Linked DNA regions of Homo sapiens: region 1 is linked to region 2. The links come from fine-mapping of genetic effects on gene expression. Tissue or cell type: tibial artery. Region 2 holds a variant in brackets; the other region holds the start of a gene. All regions are shown on one strand. Distances are from middle to middle.

Region 1 (8,295 bases), 26 kb after region 2:
GGCAGGCAGGGAAGAGGGCATTTGGGGATATGCCCTAGAGCTCCTTTGGTGGTGATAGTGGTGGGGTGGTTGGAAAGGTCATGATTCAATTGTGAAGAGGGCTCCAGGCTTACAAGCCCGGGGTGGAGGCAAGGCGGTGTAACCTTAAAAGCTTGGGCTCAGGTGGAAAATGATCCAGGTTTGAATCCTGCCTCTGCTATTTATCAGCTGTGCCATCTTGGGCAAGCCAGTAGCCATTGCCAACCTCAGTTTCCTCCTTTGTATGCGTGGAAATCATAATGCCTCCTTTGGTTGGTTAAATCAGCCAATTGATGTAACATGCTTAGTATGGCGTTTGGACTAAAGTAGGCTCTATCGATTTTGGCAGGTTAAAAAAAAAAAGCAAAACTCAAGTGTTTGTGGGATTGGAGATTCTGAAGAGCTGCAATCAGTCCCAGCAGTTAGAGGGTAAGGGAGATATGGGCAGTAAGTAGGTGGCAGGACAGAGTGTGGCGCCGGGATGGGGTAGAAGATGCCAGTCTTTGGAGTAGATGAACTGGGTTATGGTCCCCAGGCGAACAGGGTGGGAACGTCCAAGGACCACTTGTACTCACTGAGGAGTGGAAGGGGCGCCCGATGGTGAGGGAAAGTTGGTCTGCGTGAGGGTTTTGGCGGAGGCGAAGGGTGAGGGATGAATGGGCGGCAGACTTCCAGAAATGCAGACGGAGGAGACGGAGCAGTAATAATGACTTGGACACACAGGAGGAAAAAATAGCTCAGGGACGAAGATGATGCCAAGGTTTCTGGCTTTTGGAGGCCCACGGGGATCTGAGGTGGGTCTTGAGGGATCTAGAGGGGAGCTTCTGAAGGAAGTGGGTAGGTTCCGGGGAGAGGAAGGGAGCCCAGAACTACAGAGGTGGGTGGATATCTGGGCAAGGAGAGGTAAGTGTGGACCTGGGGCTTCCACAGCTGTGAAGGAGCAGCATCCCAGGAACAGAACGCAGCATTCTGGGAACTAAGGGGCATTCATGGTCAAATGCAAGGGGTAGGGTTCAAGGAGATCTTTAGAGCCAGCCCCAAAGGCAGCAAGCACATGAACCTGGATCAGGAGCTGCCACCCAGAACTCAGTTCCTCTCTCTTAAAATGGGTCTAATGATACCAGCCCTCCCCACTTGATGGGATTACTGTGTCCTTCATTCAGTTAGCTATCCATTTCACACATACTTCTTGGCTGTTCTAGGTTCTGCAGAAACAGTGGTGAGCAACGCAGACAAGATATCTGTTGCTTTAGAGCTGTCATTGTGGTTTGGGAAGTCAGACAAGAAATGATTTTATAGGTTGTTGAATAGGACTTTTCCTCTGCTCTTGGAATATCTGCTGAAGCCACAAAGATAGAACAATGAGGGCTAAATATTCTTGCATTCTGAAGAGAAGTACTAGACACCTTACTAAAGGCAGAACAGGTTCAACAGCAATCAAACTACATCCCTCAATTCCAGTCTACAAATGAAAGGGATTGAAGAAAGTCACTGAAGCATAACACTGCTGCATTTGTGGGCAGGGCTGAGATTTCCCCTGAGGGAACTCCCCAACTCAAACCAAATGAAGGGAGCTCCCAGAGAGAACCAGTCATCTGCAAGAAGAGGAGGCTCTGTCCCTATAACTGTCCCCCCACTGATGCTGACTATGTTGCTGGATGTTACAGGCACCTCGGTGCATTAAACTACAGCAAGACAGTTCATGGGAGAACCCAACATATGTCTTTAGGAATTGAGGACGTACATAAATGAAGAGACTTGTGTGCACTTCCTGTCTGGAGAATTCTGATCGTGGAGCCTCGCTGGAGTGGCCTGTGTGGCAAGGTGAGAAGTGGGCAGGGTGAGGAGCGGCCAACCCACCATTGTTTTGCCTGGCATAGGTGGGACAGTCCTATGAGAGACAGAGGATGCAGGGGTCTCCGAGAGGTTGGCCAGAGAGTAATTTGCTATGGCAACTCAGGGTGGAGGTCCTGTAGAGAACCTCCCAAAAACCCACATATGTGCCCATGAAAAAGCCAGCGCTTGGCACCTGCCAACCAAGGGTACCTGTCACATAAGACTTTGCTACTTTTCCTCTAACACCTCTCTCCCAGCCTTGACAAAGAGGAGCCACAGCAGAAAAGGGAGGTCAGGAAAACAGACCACACCCCACTCTCACCACTGCAGGATCTCTAGCAAAGGGACAGGGGAGAGGAGGACTATTAAATGGGATGTGATATTGATTAACTTGGATGAGATTTTGATCTGGACAGGAGCAGACTTTTTGTGTCTGAAAATGGGTCTTAATTATATTAATAGAATAGTTCTCGTGTCTGGTAGGGATGACCTCTCAAGCCAAGGACTCTGCCTGAGATGTCATTAAGGGTGGGAAAGGGAAATTTACCATAATATGGTTGAAGGTAGTAGTGGAGCAGTTTCTGGATAGTCCCTCTTTAGGTTCAGCCCATTAAAAAATTCAGTTACACGAGCAAACAAATCAATAACAAGATGATGTCAACTGTTTTATGAAGATGAAACAGGGTGGTGTGTTAGAGTCATGACTGGGGTGAGGGAGGGCTGCTCTAGATTGGAGGTCAGGGATGGCTACTCCAGGAGCTGATATTTAATCTGAGAGGAGCAGTGATGAGGAACTACCCTCTAACATCCTGGAGAGGAACCTTCCAGTAGAGGGAAGGGGGCATTCACTTGGCTTGTTCAAGGAGCAGAGAGAGGGCCAAGGCAGCACAGTGTGGTGGGTAAGGGAGAGCAAGAGGCCAGATGAAATCAGAGCGGGGGCAGCCAGCTAGGGTTTGTAGGCCAAGGCCAGGGGTCGAGGCTTTATTTCAACAGTAGATATTACCTGGGCTTGTCTTTTGTGTGGTGTGGGAGGTTGTGAACTGGTGCCCACATGCCAGCTCCTTCACTCTGCCTCTCTGGGAAATAGGCTGTACAAATGTGCCAGGGGCAGCCCTGTTGATCCAAGCCTTTAGGCTGTAGGGAGGGAGCATGGGTGAGAATGGTGTGCTGATTACTGGGGACACGCAGACAGCGGCAGTCAGCATTCCCACACCCCTGCCCGCCTCCCTGCTAACACAAGATGTGAATGCACACACTGGGTCAATCGGGGTCACCGAATCCCCCTCTGGGAAATTCCCGAGAGAGTGAAGGGCTGGGTGGGATCCCGGGAATGGATTCAGCCAGAGGCGGGAGGCCTAGATTCCACTCCCCTCTTTCACATGCGCTATCTCCTTGAGTGACTTACTCAAGAGGCTCCGTGTCTTTGCCTCGGTGAAAAAGAGGACCCCTTGGCCGGGCGTGGTGGCTCACGCCTTTAATCCCAGCACTTTGGGAGGCCGAGGCGGGCGGATCACCTGAGGTTGGGAGTTCGAGACCAGCCTGACCAACATGGAGAAACCCCGTCTGTACTAAAAAATAAAATAATATACAAAATTAGTCAGACTTGGTGGCGCATGCCTGTAATCCCAGCTACTAGGGAGGCTGAGGCAGGGGAATCGCTTGAACCCGGGAGGCGGAGGTTGCGGGGAGCTGAGATCGCACCATTGCACTCCAGCCTGGGCAACAAGAGCGAAACTCCGTCTCAAAAAAAAGAAAGAAAGAAAGAAAGAAAAGAAAAAGAAAAAGAAAAAGAGGACCCCTCTTCTACCGGCAGCCATCACCGCGCCAGGCTCAGGCGTGACCCTCACGCCAGTGGAAGGGGATTGAGATCCAGAGCGAAGGCGGCGGCGCCAGGGCATTGCAGCCACGGAGCGCCAGGGCCGCCAGCTCCGCCAGGGGGCGCGCCCGGGACCTCCCTGCGCTCCGCGCGCCGCGCCCCGCCCCGCGCCACCCCCGCTCCGGCCGGCCCTGCGGAGGGCGCCCCCAGCGGCCAGGGCGCAAGCGGAGGGGGCGGCGGCCCTGTTCCCCTACGCGGGCCTCGGCGCCCCTCCCGGCTTCCTTCAGACCTGCAAGGCTGCAGCCTGGGTCCCCCGATCCAAAGACGGTCCCTGAGGCGAGGGGCGGGAGAACGATTCGGGGCAGGTCTGCAGTTCGAACTTGCCCAGAGCAGGAGAAAGGCGGCCCAGTGTCCCGGTCGTGGCAGGCGCCATCTGCCCGACCAGCGCCTGGGTCAGCCCCGCGCCGCCCCCTGCTCCGCACGGGTTAATCCCCCTCGCCGCCCGCTCGCCGCCCGCTGGCTTCCCGGTGCCAAAGTGGGTGTTGCTGGAATTCCTCGCTCCCTCTCCGGTAATGAGGGGGCTGAGCTGTCCCTCCGAGGAGGGGGCCTGGTGTGGATAAAAGAGACGAAAAAGCCGGGGGAGGTTTCCAAAAATAAAACCGTCCGGGTCCCCTTCAGACGGCTGCAGGCACAGGGAGGAGGCGCGAAGGTGCAGCAGCCGTGCGAGCCCAGCTGGAGTAGGAGCGCGGACTCGAGGCTCGGGGCGCGCAGCCCTCGTTCCGCCGAGAGCCGGGCCCCCAGTCGGCCGCTTCAGGGCCCCCTAGACTCAGAGAAGCTGGCCGCCGGGCGGGGCCGGGAGAACAGCCCGCGGGCGTCCAGCGTGCCGACCACAAAGCTCTTCGCGGTGCCCGCGCGCACCACTCTCCAGCCGCCCCGCGCCATGAGGCCGCGGACCAAAGCCCGCAGCCCGGGGCGCGCCCTGCGGAACCCCTGGAGAGGCTTCCTGCCGCTCACCCTGGCTCTCTTCGTGGGCGCGGGTCATGCCCAAAGGGACCCCGTAGGGAGATACGAGCCGGCTGGTGGAGACGCGAATCGACTGCGGCGCCCTGGGGGCAGCTACCCGGCAGCGGCTGCAGCCAAGGTGTACAGTCTGTTCCGGGAGCAGGACGCGCCTGTCGCGGGCTTGCAGCCCGTGGAGCGGGCCCAGCCGGGCTGGGGGAGCCCCAGGAGGCCCACCGAGGCGGAGGCCAGGAGGCCGTCCCGCGCGCAGCAGTCGCGGCGTGTCCAGCCACCTGCGCAGACCCGGAGAAGCACTCCCCTGGGCCAGCAGCAACCAGCACCCCGGACCCGGGCCGCGCCGGCTCTCCCACGCCTGGGGACCCCACAGCGGTCTGGGGCTGCGCCCCCAACCCCGCCGCGAGGGCGGCTCACGGGGTGAGCATGGGAGAGGGAAGTTTGGAGGGTACAGAGGGGAGCCAGGGCTCATTTGTGGAGGGGCGTGCAGGCGAGAGGAGAGGGCGCCGCTCTCATACCCTCGTCCCTCTGTCTTTAGTACTTCGGGAAACAGCCCCGAGGTTCCAAAATCGGGATTGGAAGATTTGATCCGCTTTCGAAGAGTTGAAGGCAGATAGATCATCATCCTCATCCTTTCTTACCAACTCTCCCGGAGCCCCGACGTTAAATCCTTTCGCAAGGCGCCTCTCCACTCGCCCGCGTTCCTCCTGCCTGCAACTAACGAGCTCTTGTAGACTCTTGCAGCGCTGCCGGGATCTGAGAGGCAGCGGGGAGAGGGCAGGAGGGTGGGCGCTCCAGGCTCTTGACGCCCAGGGGAGGTTGAGCTGGCTCAGAGCGCGGGTTGGCGGAGGTGTCGGGGGCCCCATGGAGAGAAGGTAGATGCGTCTCCAGGAGGGGAGCCGGCAGCGAAGCTGGTGCGTCGGGACAAGTGTCGTGGGGCGTGGGTCGGCCTGCGCACGCTGAGGGCTGGATGCGGGCGTGGGCGTGAGCTCTGGGTACTTTGGGCGGGAAGCGTGTCCTGATGAGGCTGCGACACAGTGGGCGCGTGGAGAATTGGATCAGTGTGCTCTTGTGCATCTAGGTGTAAGCGTGACTTGGGCGCGTTGCAGGGCTAAGCCACCGCACAACCCTGCAATTTACTTTTTTGCTCCCCCTGGGCACCACCCCCTGCCCACCGCGGGCGCCGTCGCAGAGTGAGAAGATGCCCCAGTAATCCCCATCCCCAATCGGATCATCATGGCTGCGGGCACGCTCCGCCTTGCCTGGGTATGGCAGGTGCCTCTGGAATGGAGGGCACTGAGCCCTGGGCAGTGAGGGGCTGGGTGGGGGCACCATCGGGAAGTCTGGGAAGGGCTTTGGCAGCCTCTCTTTGCCTGGGCCCGATTTGCCAGTTGGGTTTAGTCCTGGGGAACAGCATGAAAGACACTTGTACCCCGAGTCCTACTCCAAGGACCTTGCACTTCGCAGCCTTGGCGCTCTGTTTTCCTTGGCGCTCTGTTTTCCTTGGCTGGAGCGCTCTTCTCATATTTCAGCAGGATTGAGCTCTGTCTCTTTCAGATTTCTGCTCAGAGTGACTTTTGGCCACCCGTGCCCCATCCTCTTTCTCCTTTCACCCTGCTTTATGTTTCTTCATAGTACTTATTCTATCTGATATGTTCTATTCCTATTTATGTGTTTATGGCCTGGCCTCCCAGCCCACACTAATGCAAGCTCTATGCAAACAGGGACTTCGTTGTGTCCATTTCTGTGTCTCTTGTGCCTAGAATAGTGCCTGCACTGGTTGGTATTCTCTAGGTATCTGTTGAATGAGTGGATGAACTCCCTGCTGCCCATGGAAGGCCCAGCTTCAAGCAGGCAGAGAGTAGACCCATGCACTGCCAAGTCGCTTACACATAGGATCATTCAACAAGTCTTAGTGGAAAGCACCTGCTGTGTTTCAGCGTTTTCCTTTCCTGATCTGTGCAAGTGAATGCATGCTTCCAAGGATCCTGCGTGCAGAGCATGGGAAAGGGGATGGAGGCCCAGAGTCCAAGGCATTGTTCCTGCTGGGAGAGCAACCCAATTACTTAATATCACGTTGAAGAAATGAACAGATGCTTTCTAGTACTGGAAGGTTCCTGTTAAGTGCAAAGGAGTGGGGCAACTGTAGCTGAAGAGCTGAGTAGAGGGGACCTGTGACCTGGGGCCCCTGGGGCTCTGTGGGCAGCATGTGGGGAAGCAGAGGGGAGGTGGCAGGAGGGGGGCCTGGAGGTGAGGGTGGTGTGCAGATGTAGCACTGCCCAAGGACAAGGGCTTTTTACTGTTGGCACTGGCCCAGGGGTAGCACTGCAGCTTTGGTGTAGGGGAACCTAGAGACATAGCTTGGGCTGGAGCAGGGAGGAGCTTGTACTGCAGGCATTTAGGTGCAGGTGAGGTGCGGGGGAAGGTGGGGAAGTGGAGCGTGGGGGCTGGAGGGTGCACTATTAGAAGTCATGAAATAAAGCGAATTGTCACTACAACAAAGCTGGTGGATGTGAACAGGCATGTGAAGACATGGGCTGGGTGCCACCTGCTGTACACAGGTGCACACATCACATGACACACTGGTCAGGCTCCTCCCCCACATTGTCTTCTGCAGCTTTGATAAAGAGTGGGTTCCCTGACACTCCAGTCAGCCACTCCATGTCAGCTGGGGAGGACCTGAGGGGTCATCTTGTTTATTCTCTTCCTCCACCCTGGTCCATTCTGGCTAATGGCTTCTAGTCAGGCTGATCAGGTTGGCCATTCATTGCCTTGTGAGCTGCAGACAGCCAGGGACCAAGTGCCACCTCCTGGTGAATCTTGGAACTGCACCACTGCTACTGGAGCTTCTTCATTCATTCGACAAATATTTTGGAAGAACTTCTATACCCAGGCCCTATACTGGATCTTGAGGATATAGCAGTGACCAAGACAGGCATACTCTGTCCTCATGGAACTTTCAATGTAGAAAAGATTTATTGCACATAATAAAGACTTATTAAGTTTGTGCCAGGCTTGATGCTAGGTATTTGGGATACAGCAGTGACCAGAGTGGACACCGTCCCTACGCTAATGAAATTTACAGTCTACAGGGTTTCTTTTTCATTTCTTTTCTTTTCTTTATTCTTTCTTTCTTTTTTTCTTTTTTTTTTTTTCTTTTTTTTGAGATAGAGTCTCTTGCCCTGTCACTCAGGCTGGAGTGACATTATTTCGGTTCACTACAACCTCCACCCCCGAGGCTCAAGCAATTCTCGTGCCTCAGCCTCCCTAGTAACTGGGATTATGGGCGCACGTCACCACACCCGGCTAATTTTTTGTATTTTTAGTAGAGATGGGGTTTCGCCATGTTGGCCAGGCTGGTCTCAAACTCCTGAGCTTAAGCACTACACCCACCTTGGCCTCCCAAAGTGCTGGGATTACAGGTGTGAGCCACCACGCCTGGCCTCTATAGGGTTTTTTGAACCAGCCTCACAGCAGACCACCTGTATAATATTTTTCTCTACCTTTCCCTCTTGTTCTGTTATTATTTTTCTTTAACTTTATATTCTGTTAAAATAACAGGATTTTGTGTTTTATCTGTTTTAAAGTATATTATGAAGTTTTATAAATGC
Region 2 (8,323 bases):
GTGACAAGGTTCACTCCTGCTTTCAAGTAGCAGTGTTTCTCAAACTTTAATGTGCATTCAAATCACTGGGGTTCTTGTTAATATACAGATTGTGATCTGATATGTCTGTGATGGGCCCCGAGATTCTGTGTTTCTAACAAGCTCCTGGTTGACGCTGATGCTATGGGCCCACGGACCACACATTGAGTAACAATGGCTTGAAGTGCAGTAGGAGAGCAAAACATGCACACACGTGGCCATGATAAAAGAAAGTGAGCTGTGCGGTGACAGCTGAGAACATACGTGACAGGAGCCCCAGACTTCTCACATGGGATCCTGAGCAGAGAGGAATCCTTCAGGCTTTGCGTGCCTTCTGGCCTCAGCCTGGTTCTCGAAAGCGTTGGCCAGTTCTTTCCAGGCTACCTCTGGCTGCAGACTTGCTGGGCCGGGCCAGGCCAGGCTGGGGCTAAGTGTAAAGGGACAGGTGCAGAGTAACTGATGCACTCAGAAATTCCACCAGTGCTTATGAGAGCCAGGCCTGGCCTTGGGGTGCACACATGTTCTCTCTCAGACCTCAGCTGGTCAACACCAGCCCAGCTTTCCCTGGAATGATCCCTCTGACCAGCTCTCAGGCGAGAAATGCTTGTGTGATGTATTGCTCCCCAGGGCTCTCTGGGATCCAAGAATGTACACAAACAGAGCCAGTCAACCCAGACAGTGCATTATTTCTACTGATAAACATATATGTTCTTACAAATATGCTCACAAAATTGCCGAACTATGCTCAGCACCCAACTAGTAGCTTCGGCCACATTCTGCCTAGTGATACCGTTTTGTTCGGATTCTCAGGCCTCCTAAGAGTACCTGTGATGTCCCCTCCCCAGCCAGTCTCAGCTTGGCAAGCTCTCATAACACTCCACCCTCATAGCATCTCAATCCATGCAAAGTCATTCTAGACTTTAAGTCCAGGGAGGCCATACTGTGGGCCGCTGGGACCCGAACAGATAGAATCTTCTCAGTTTAACTCTGCTTCCTGGAAAGGTTTGTAACACATATTCACACAGGGGACTGTGCAGGAAGATGTGCGTGTTCACAAACAGGTAGCAGGTGGCATCTGGGAGTCTGGTTGACAGATTTGTAATCCACAGCCAAGCAAGTGAGCTCTGAAAGATGGGGCCTGGAGAAGGTTGCTGAATCTTTTTTTTTTTTTTTTTTTTTTTTTTTGGCAGAGTCTTGCTCTGTCGCCCAGGCTGGAGTGCAGTGGTGCAATCTCGGTTCACTGCAACCTCTACCTCCCGAATTCAAGTGATTTTCCCACCTCAGCCTCCCACCAAGCAGCTGGTATTACAGGCATGCACCACCACACCCAGCTAAATTTTGTATTTTTAGTAAAGACGGGGTTTCATTATGTTGGCCAGGCTGGTCTCAAACTCAGGTAACCTCAGGTGATGTGCCTGCCTCAGCCTCCCAAAGTGCTGGGATTACAGGTGTGAGCCACCACGCCCAGCCAGTTGCTGAACCTTTAAGGGCACTTGCCACGTGCCAGGTATGTCTCATTTGGCCCTCCCAGACATGCCTTTGGCGGGTGGTGGGCGGGAAGACTCTAACATGGTGTCAGCTGGGAGCCTACCTAGCCTGGAATTTAATTCTTCCCCAGCCCCCAATATTTTTGTGGCTTAAGTGAAGTTGAAGCTTCTCTCTAAGATTTCTGTGAACTCCTACAGACTTGTGGGTCCTTGAGCCCCTCTGCATCCATACCTGCTGGGGCAACCCTGCCATGGTCACAGCAAACCAAACACAACTTCCTCTAAGCAAATCCTGTGATCAGTATGGAGATGGCAGGGAGTTGATCTAATCCTGGCCCTATCCCCAGGGCCTCCCAGGAGATCTGTTGCTGTCCTCCTCCTCTATTTTGATGCTACAGACCCAGTGCAGACCCCACAGGTTCCTGATAAGCTCTGAGTCCTTCCTTGGACTGACAAGTTGGCCAAATGACACTGCTTCAGAGGATAAGCAATCCCTCATGTTCCAAAGATGAGAGCTCTCCTGATGTCCCATTTTTGGGTCCCATGAGACTTCAGGATCATCTTCCAGCCTAAAATTGATGTCTGTTTTGCTTCACTTCTCTTGTCCTTCTTTCAAGTCCAGTAGAGCCCATTCCCTCCAGGAAGCTTCCCCCAACTCCCCCAGCACACAAGGACATCTTCTTTCTTTGACCCTCTGTATCCTATTGTCAAACCCATCACGGGAGGCAGGAGAGGAAAGAGGTTACTGGTGCAGGTTCTGAACTTAGCTGTCTGGGTTCAAATCCCACTCCCGCCATCTGGGTGTTGTGTGACCATAAGCAAATTATTTAGTACTTCCAGGCCTTAGTTTCATTGTCTTTAAAACAGAGGGAGTAACAATAATTCCTATCTCATGGGGTTGTTATAAAGATTAAAAGAGATAATGCGTGTAAAGCTATATAGACTAAAATCTGGCATGCAGTAGCTGCTTAATAAATATTACTTATCAATAGCTATTGATATCAACCATTCAATTAGTACTTAATTTCATACTGCTTTATTCCAAGGGTATCAGGGATGACTTGCTGATGTGAACACAGGAAGAGGTCTCTTAATGATAATTGCAGCAACAACGCATCTCTTGCCAGGCACTGGGTTACGGGCTTACTCACATTATCTCTGGGCTTGAAGAACCATCAGTTAACCAGTGAAATAGTGTGGAAATTGTAGCATGTTATGAGGGTAATTTGGTATTTTTTCTGTTTGTTTGTTGTTGTTGTTGTTTTGTTTTGGTTTTTTGTTTGTTTTTTGAGACAAAGTCTCACTTTGTTGCCCAGGCTGGAATTTAGTGGTGCAATCTCAGCTCACTGCAACCTCCGCCTCCTGGGTTCAAGCAGTTCTCTGCCTCAGCCTCCCGGGTAGCTGGGATTACAAGTGCCCACCACCACACCCGGCTACATTTTTTTGTATTTTTAGTAGAGACGGGGTTTCACCATCTTGGCCAGGCTGGTCTTGGACTCCTGACCTCGTGATCCACCCACCTCAGCCTCCCAAAGTGCTGGGATTATAGGCCTGAGCCACTGTGCCTGGCCATGAGGCGTGTACTTCATTTGAAATGAAGTGCAAGTGCAAATACAGGGTTTTAATTTATTGGGGTGTTTTGGGTTTTGTTTGTTTGTTTTGTTTTGGGCTGTGTAAATGGGGACTAGGAGAACTGGAGGGTACAGATTTGCCAAGGTTTTTTCCAGACTTGTCCAGTAGGAAAAGTGTTCTGATTATTTCCTGAGCAAGATCTGAAAATCTGTCAGATGGAGGATCAGCAGAGCTATCCTGAAAACCTGCCATTTAGGATCTAGGTTGTTCAGTCAAATCTCTCCATTAGACCTAAATGGGGCCTGGAAGCAAGAGGCCTGTCTGGTTGTCAGCTGGTTGTACTCACCATGCCTGTCTCCTTTATTTAAATTGTTAAAAGCAAAGGCAAGCTTGACTCCTAGCTCTCTATTCCTTACAAGCTATGTGACCTGGACAAGTTGCTTAACCTCTCTGAACATCTGTTCCCTTATTTGTGAAATGAGGACAATAATGCTTGTGTAATACTTCAGTCCCCTTGAGGATTAAACAAAATAACATAATCAAGAGCATAGCACAGTGTCTGATACTTGGCACACCAATAGCTATTATTATTTTCCTCATCTTGGGACATGAAAACTGCCTCATAAGCTGCTCTCTTCCCAGAGCATTTGCTTTTTATATTATTTTGTTCCATCCTCTTCTACGTTTCCTAGATAAACTTATTTTGACAAATTCTGCCTTGGCTGAACTTTGGGAAAATGAGCATGTCCATCCCTAGAACAGTGATTGGAGGCTGCCTTTTGAGCTCAGCCACCATGGTGGTAGCTGGAAATCTGGGGAAACTGAGGCAGACAGTGATGCAAAACTGAGGACAGGGCCACTTGGGATGGTGAGAAACAGCTCAGATTTTGTTCTCTTCTCCCTTGGGGGTATTAACCTGTGTTCTTGACTCCCCAACAAATTATAAGCCCCTGAGGCACTCTGCCTCAGTTCCTCTGCCTATAAAATAGGAATAATAATGCTATCAACTTCGTAGGGTTGTTATGGGGATTAAATGAGATAATAAACTTATGTGCTTAGCACCAAAGCTTGGCAAATAGTGTGTGCCCAACAAATACTAGCTTTTACCATTTTATGTGTCCACGAGGCCTAACATCGCTGGGCACACAGTGAGGTTCCCGAATCCTGGACTCCACCCCTCAGAGTTGGTGCTTTTCTGCCCTGACTCCCTGCAGTCCACCTGAGTTCAGCCCCACCTTGTTGATTCCATCGGGAGGTGACATTGAAAACCACAGATGCCATCTGTTGGGGATTCTGAATTGTTTCTGGCCCTTATCAGCAGTGTAAAGGGGGCCAGGTTGCGGACAGCTTAATGAGGAAAACAGGAGCTTAGCGGCTGCCAGAGGGCAACAGAGTGCCGGAGTACCAGCCCTTCCTCTGGAGGAGACACTGTCTGCCCAGGCTCTTGGCTGA[C/T]GCACGTCGTGAGATCTGACTTCCTCTCTCTGTTTTCTTTTCAATACAGAATAACTTTCCCTACCTCAGGCCCTCACCACCCACTCTCTGGCCCAGCCTCTACCTTGGAAACAGGGTTGAAACATTTGGGAGCTGCCCCATTCATCAGGCATCCCATTTGGATCATTCAACAGTCCCCAGTACTTCCCCACTTCCCCCTTCTCTCTCTCTTGTCCCATGAGGAGTATCCATGGCAAACTCAATAAGACCTAAGATCTTTACCTTCATTTTCTCATTCAATCATTTCTACAGTCCTATGACATAGCTCTTATCCATCCCATTTTTACAGAAGCAGGAGCAGAGTCTCAGAGGTTCAGATCTTTGCCGAAGGTCACACGGCTAGAATAGGGAGCAGCTAGATTTGAATTCAGGCCTTCTGGCACCTGCTCCCTTGTTCCTCTGTACCTGCCTTCCCCTGGGGGAGGATGGCAGGATGGCAAGTGCCCAGTGCTCACAGAGCAGTGTGCTGGATGAGGGGCAGAAGGGAGACGGGGGAAGAAGGGAGGCTACTGTTGCATAGTTTGCCTTAGGACAGCCTTGACTGATGAAACCACCTTCCAGGCTCCAAGAGATTTTTCTCTCCATAGCTGCTCCTGATCTGGCTTAGAGACAATTGCCTCTGCCTTCTTTATCTCTGAAGCCTTCCCCCCAGCCCCACCTACTTGGCTTTTGACTCCTTGCAGGGTTGCAAAGGGGCCTGCAATGCCTGCACTGCCTGTCTCCTGCTTGGGGGGCTCTGGGTTCAGCTGCTGTCTCTAAGCTGGTGGCTGCTTTTGGCTTCTGCTCCAGGAGCTGCAGACGGGCCAGCAGGGGGTCTCCAGAGAGGCCAGACCCTGGAGTTAGTTAAATGAGGACCAGCTGGGTTGAAGCAGGAACGTTTTAGCCTTCCTGAGGCAGACGGAGCCTCAGCCTCAGACCCCTGCCATGCAAGCCCTTTTCCCATCACCCACTCTCTACTCTACTTCTTGGGGCTGAAGTTGTTGATATATTTCAGGCCCTGCCTCCCCAGTCCCTTCCCCCTGCAGCCCTGCTTAGAGGGCCAGCTGACTGCTCTCCCGTCCTGCCTGTCTGCCCTGGTAGTTGCCCTTCAAGCTGGGTAGTAGCTGTAGATATCAGGAGGTGCTGCTGTTCTCCAGGGCTTGGGAAAATATCCTACACTTGACCTTTCCCCCCGGCGGGGAGAGGAATGTTGAGGCCAGAGCTGAGTGGGATCTGCTATCCTGGCAGGCGGCCTGCCTGCGCCTCTGGATGAATGATGGGGATGGGCTAAGAGGGTCAGAGACTCTCCCAGCACAGGCAGAAAAGACTGAGTGCCCCAGACTGGGCCAACCTCTCATCTTTGGGGTCCATTCCCCATGCCAGAGCCCTGGGCTGGCTCTCAAGGCTGTCCCCATCATTCCTGAAACACTGAGCTGTCTGCAGTGTCCTCAGAGTCTGTCACCGCATCACACTCTCTCCAGGGAGGCTGGATTAGCTGCCCAGAGTTAACAGAGAGGGCACTGGGAGGGGGCAATTGTTGATTCTCAGTCTTCACATCTGAAAATGGCAATAGGGCTGGATTTGTGGTTTTCAAGCGGTATTCGGACAAGCCCCAACGTTCCTCCAAGATGCCTCAGAGGCTATAAGGCAAAGGGAAGTATGTGTGTTGGGGTGTTTGGGGAGAGATCAAGGGCGGGCCCCTTTCCAGCCACAGGAGCTCCCCAGTTTCCTGTTCACATCTTGGATCTGACTCCTGAACCCCTGGCAGTCTGGTCCCTGAATCCCTAGCCCCTGCATCCCACACTACTCTGCTTGCCTTGCCTGTGAGTTCCTCCAGCACAAGAGCCTTCCTACCTCCAGGATCTTATGACATCTCCTCCTGACCGTCCTCCTCCATACCTCCTTTCTGAGTTCTGTGCACCCTTCAGATCTCAGCTCCAATGTCATTCCTTTGGGGATACCTTCCCCAAATCCCCTCCCAAGTCTGTATTAGGTCATCTAGCTGCATACGTCTCTTTCTTAGCTCTACTTCAATTGCAGCTCACTGTTGATCTACTTATCTAATTATTTTCCCAGTGTCTGTCTCCTCCACTACACTGTATGCTCACAAGGGCTGGAATCAGGTCTGGATTGCATGCTGCTGTATCCCCTAGCACAGCACCTGGGACAGAGTTGGCATTCAGTAAATATTTGTTGAATGCTGAAACACTGCACAAAGGTTTTGCTCAAAAAAAAAAAAAAAAAAAAGTTGAAAACCGCTGGCCTAGAGGCTCTCTCAGTCAGTCCCCTTCCAATTCCATTTTTTTTTTCTTTGAGACAGTCTCGCTCAGTTGCCCAGGCTGGAGTGCAGTGGTGCGATCTTGGCTCACTGCAACCTCTGCCTCATGGGTTCATGCTATTCTCCTGCCTCAGCCTCCTGAGTAGCTGGGATTACGGGTGTGTGCCACCATGCCTGGTTAATTTTTGTTTTTAGTAGAGATGGGGTTTCACCATGTTGGCCAGGCTGGTCTCGAACTTCTGGTCTCAAGACATCCACTTGCCTTGACCTCCCAAATTGTTGGGATTACAGGCGTGAGCCACCGCGCCCTGCTCCCTTCCAATTCTGCATCCACATCCTTAAAACTTGGATGCAATTACCTTCACCACCAAAATATTTCTGGCCCTCCCCATTAAAACTTTACCTGGCCTTTTCTTAATTTCCATGGTGTTTAGAAGGGAGTGATGTAAACAGTAATGGGAAGAAAAATAAAGGAACTCCAAGAAAGGCAGGGTATTAGCCCCCTCCACCCACTAGAGAAGCAGATGGGGGTGGGGAAGACAGCCATGTGCTGGAAGAAGAGGACAGGGCCCAGCACTCAAACCTCCTCTGAGTCTCAGGGGGTTTGTTTGTCTCAGGACACACCTGTCCCACATCCATTGAGCTGCCTGGCAGGGGAGGAGTTCGCTGCCACTTAGGCTCCAGTGACCATAGCTCTCAGGCCAGCTGTTTCCTTGCCTTTGAATTAGTGGCTGACCCTGTGTTGTCTCCTGCCTGTTCCAAGCAGCCTGGGAGACTTCCAAGCATGTCTTTTACAGGCCAGATGTGTGTCCACTGGCTGTGAATTCTTGTATGGAGAACAGGTGGGTGGTAATTATTCTAGCAGGAGCTGAGCGTGACTGGAAGCTAAGGAGACAATTCTATGGAGCTGTCAAGAACAGAAACAATGTTCTTTTCCTGAGCTTGCTTTTATAGGAGGAGAGGGAGATGCAATCCAGGGCTGTGGCAGGAGCCTTGGCCCCTATGGCAGGTTCTGCAGCGTCCTGGAAATTCCCATCCCCCACCCCATCCATCCCCCACCTCTCTCAATTGACATCCCATGTGTAGAGAACATCTGCTGTGCACATATGCCCAGCACTTCTTCCCTTCCTTGAGTAACAGAAACTCAGCTTTCCTTTGGGAAACTCAAACTCCCCAATTCCATGCATTCCTGGTGGGGCTGCCAGCCACAGGACTCTCCCAACCCTCCATTCTCAAAGGGTGAGCATAGACCCAAGATCTGTCAGACTTTTTCCTGGGGAATTTGAATCTGAGTTGGAGTCATTACCCATAATGGAAGGCAGTTGCTTTAGAATCATCCAAAGCCAGACAGCTCATGAGTTCCCGCTACCCAGACCCCCAAAGCTGCCCTGGTCCCTTCTCAGGCCTGAGTGTTGAAGGCCTCCTTCAGTACCATGTATCTTTCCAACAAATTCTCTTTCGCCACTTATGTTTGCCAGAGCCAGCTTCTGTAACTTGC

Which allele goes with the higher level. Positions count from the first base shown, and alleles are read on the strand shown. Sizes are in standard deviations (SD) of each study's normalised expression.
With allele T in place of C in region 2, the expression in tibial artery of the gene that starts at base 4,318 in region 1 is lower (small effect, 0.12 SD a copy in GTEx).

Evidence for each region.
Region 1: it holds the start of LTBP2, and the variant in region 2 is fine-mapped to the expression of LTBP2 in tibial artery (GTEx, PIP 0.98).

What each region holds. Positions count from the first base shown.
Region 1 is chr14:74,608,260-74,616,554 of GRCh38, reverse strand. It overlaps LTBP2 (latent transforming growth factor beta binding protein 2), which reads left to right and starts at 4,318. Exons shown (of 36, transcript NM_000428.3): 1 at 4,318-5,104. The coding sequence starts at 4,611. LOC101928352 (a long non-coding RNA gene) reads right to left here and starts at 3,370. Exons shown (of 2, transcript XR_944029.4): 1 at 3,260-3,370; 2 at 2,507-2,988. RefSeq lists a silencer at 3,688-4,007 and an enhancer at 3,635-4,262.
Region 2 is chr14:74,634,409-74,642,731 of GRCh38, reverse strand. No RefSeq gene overlaps it. Among named protein-coding and RNA genes, the nearest start is that of LTBP2, 26 kb to the right of the region's middle. RefSeq lists a silencer at 7,392-7,686. The variant C/T (reference allele first, on the strand shown) is at 4,530.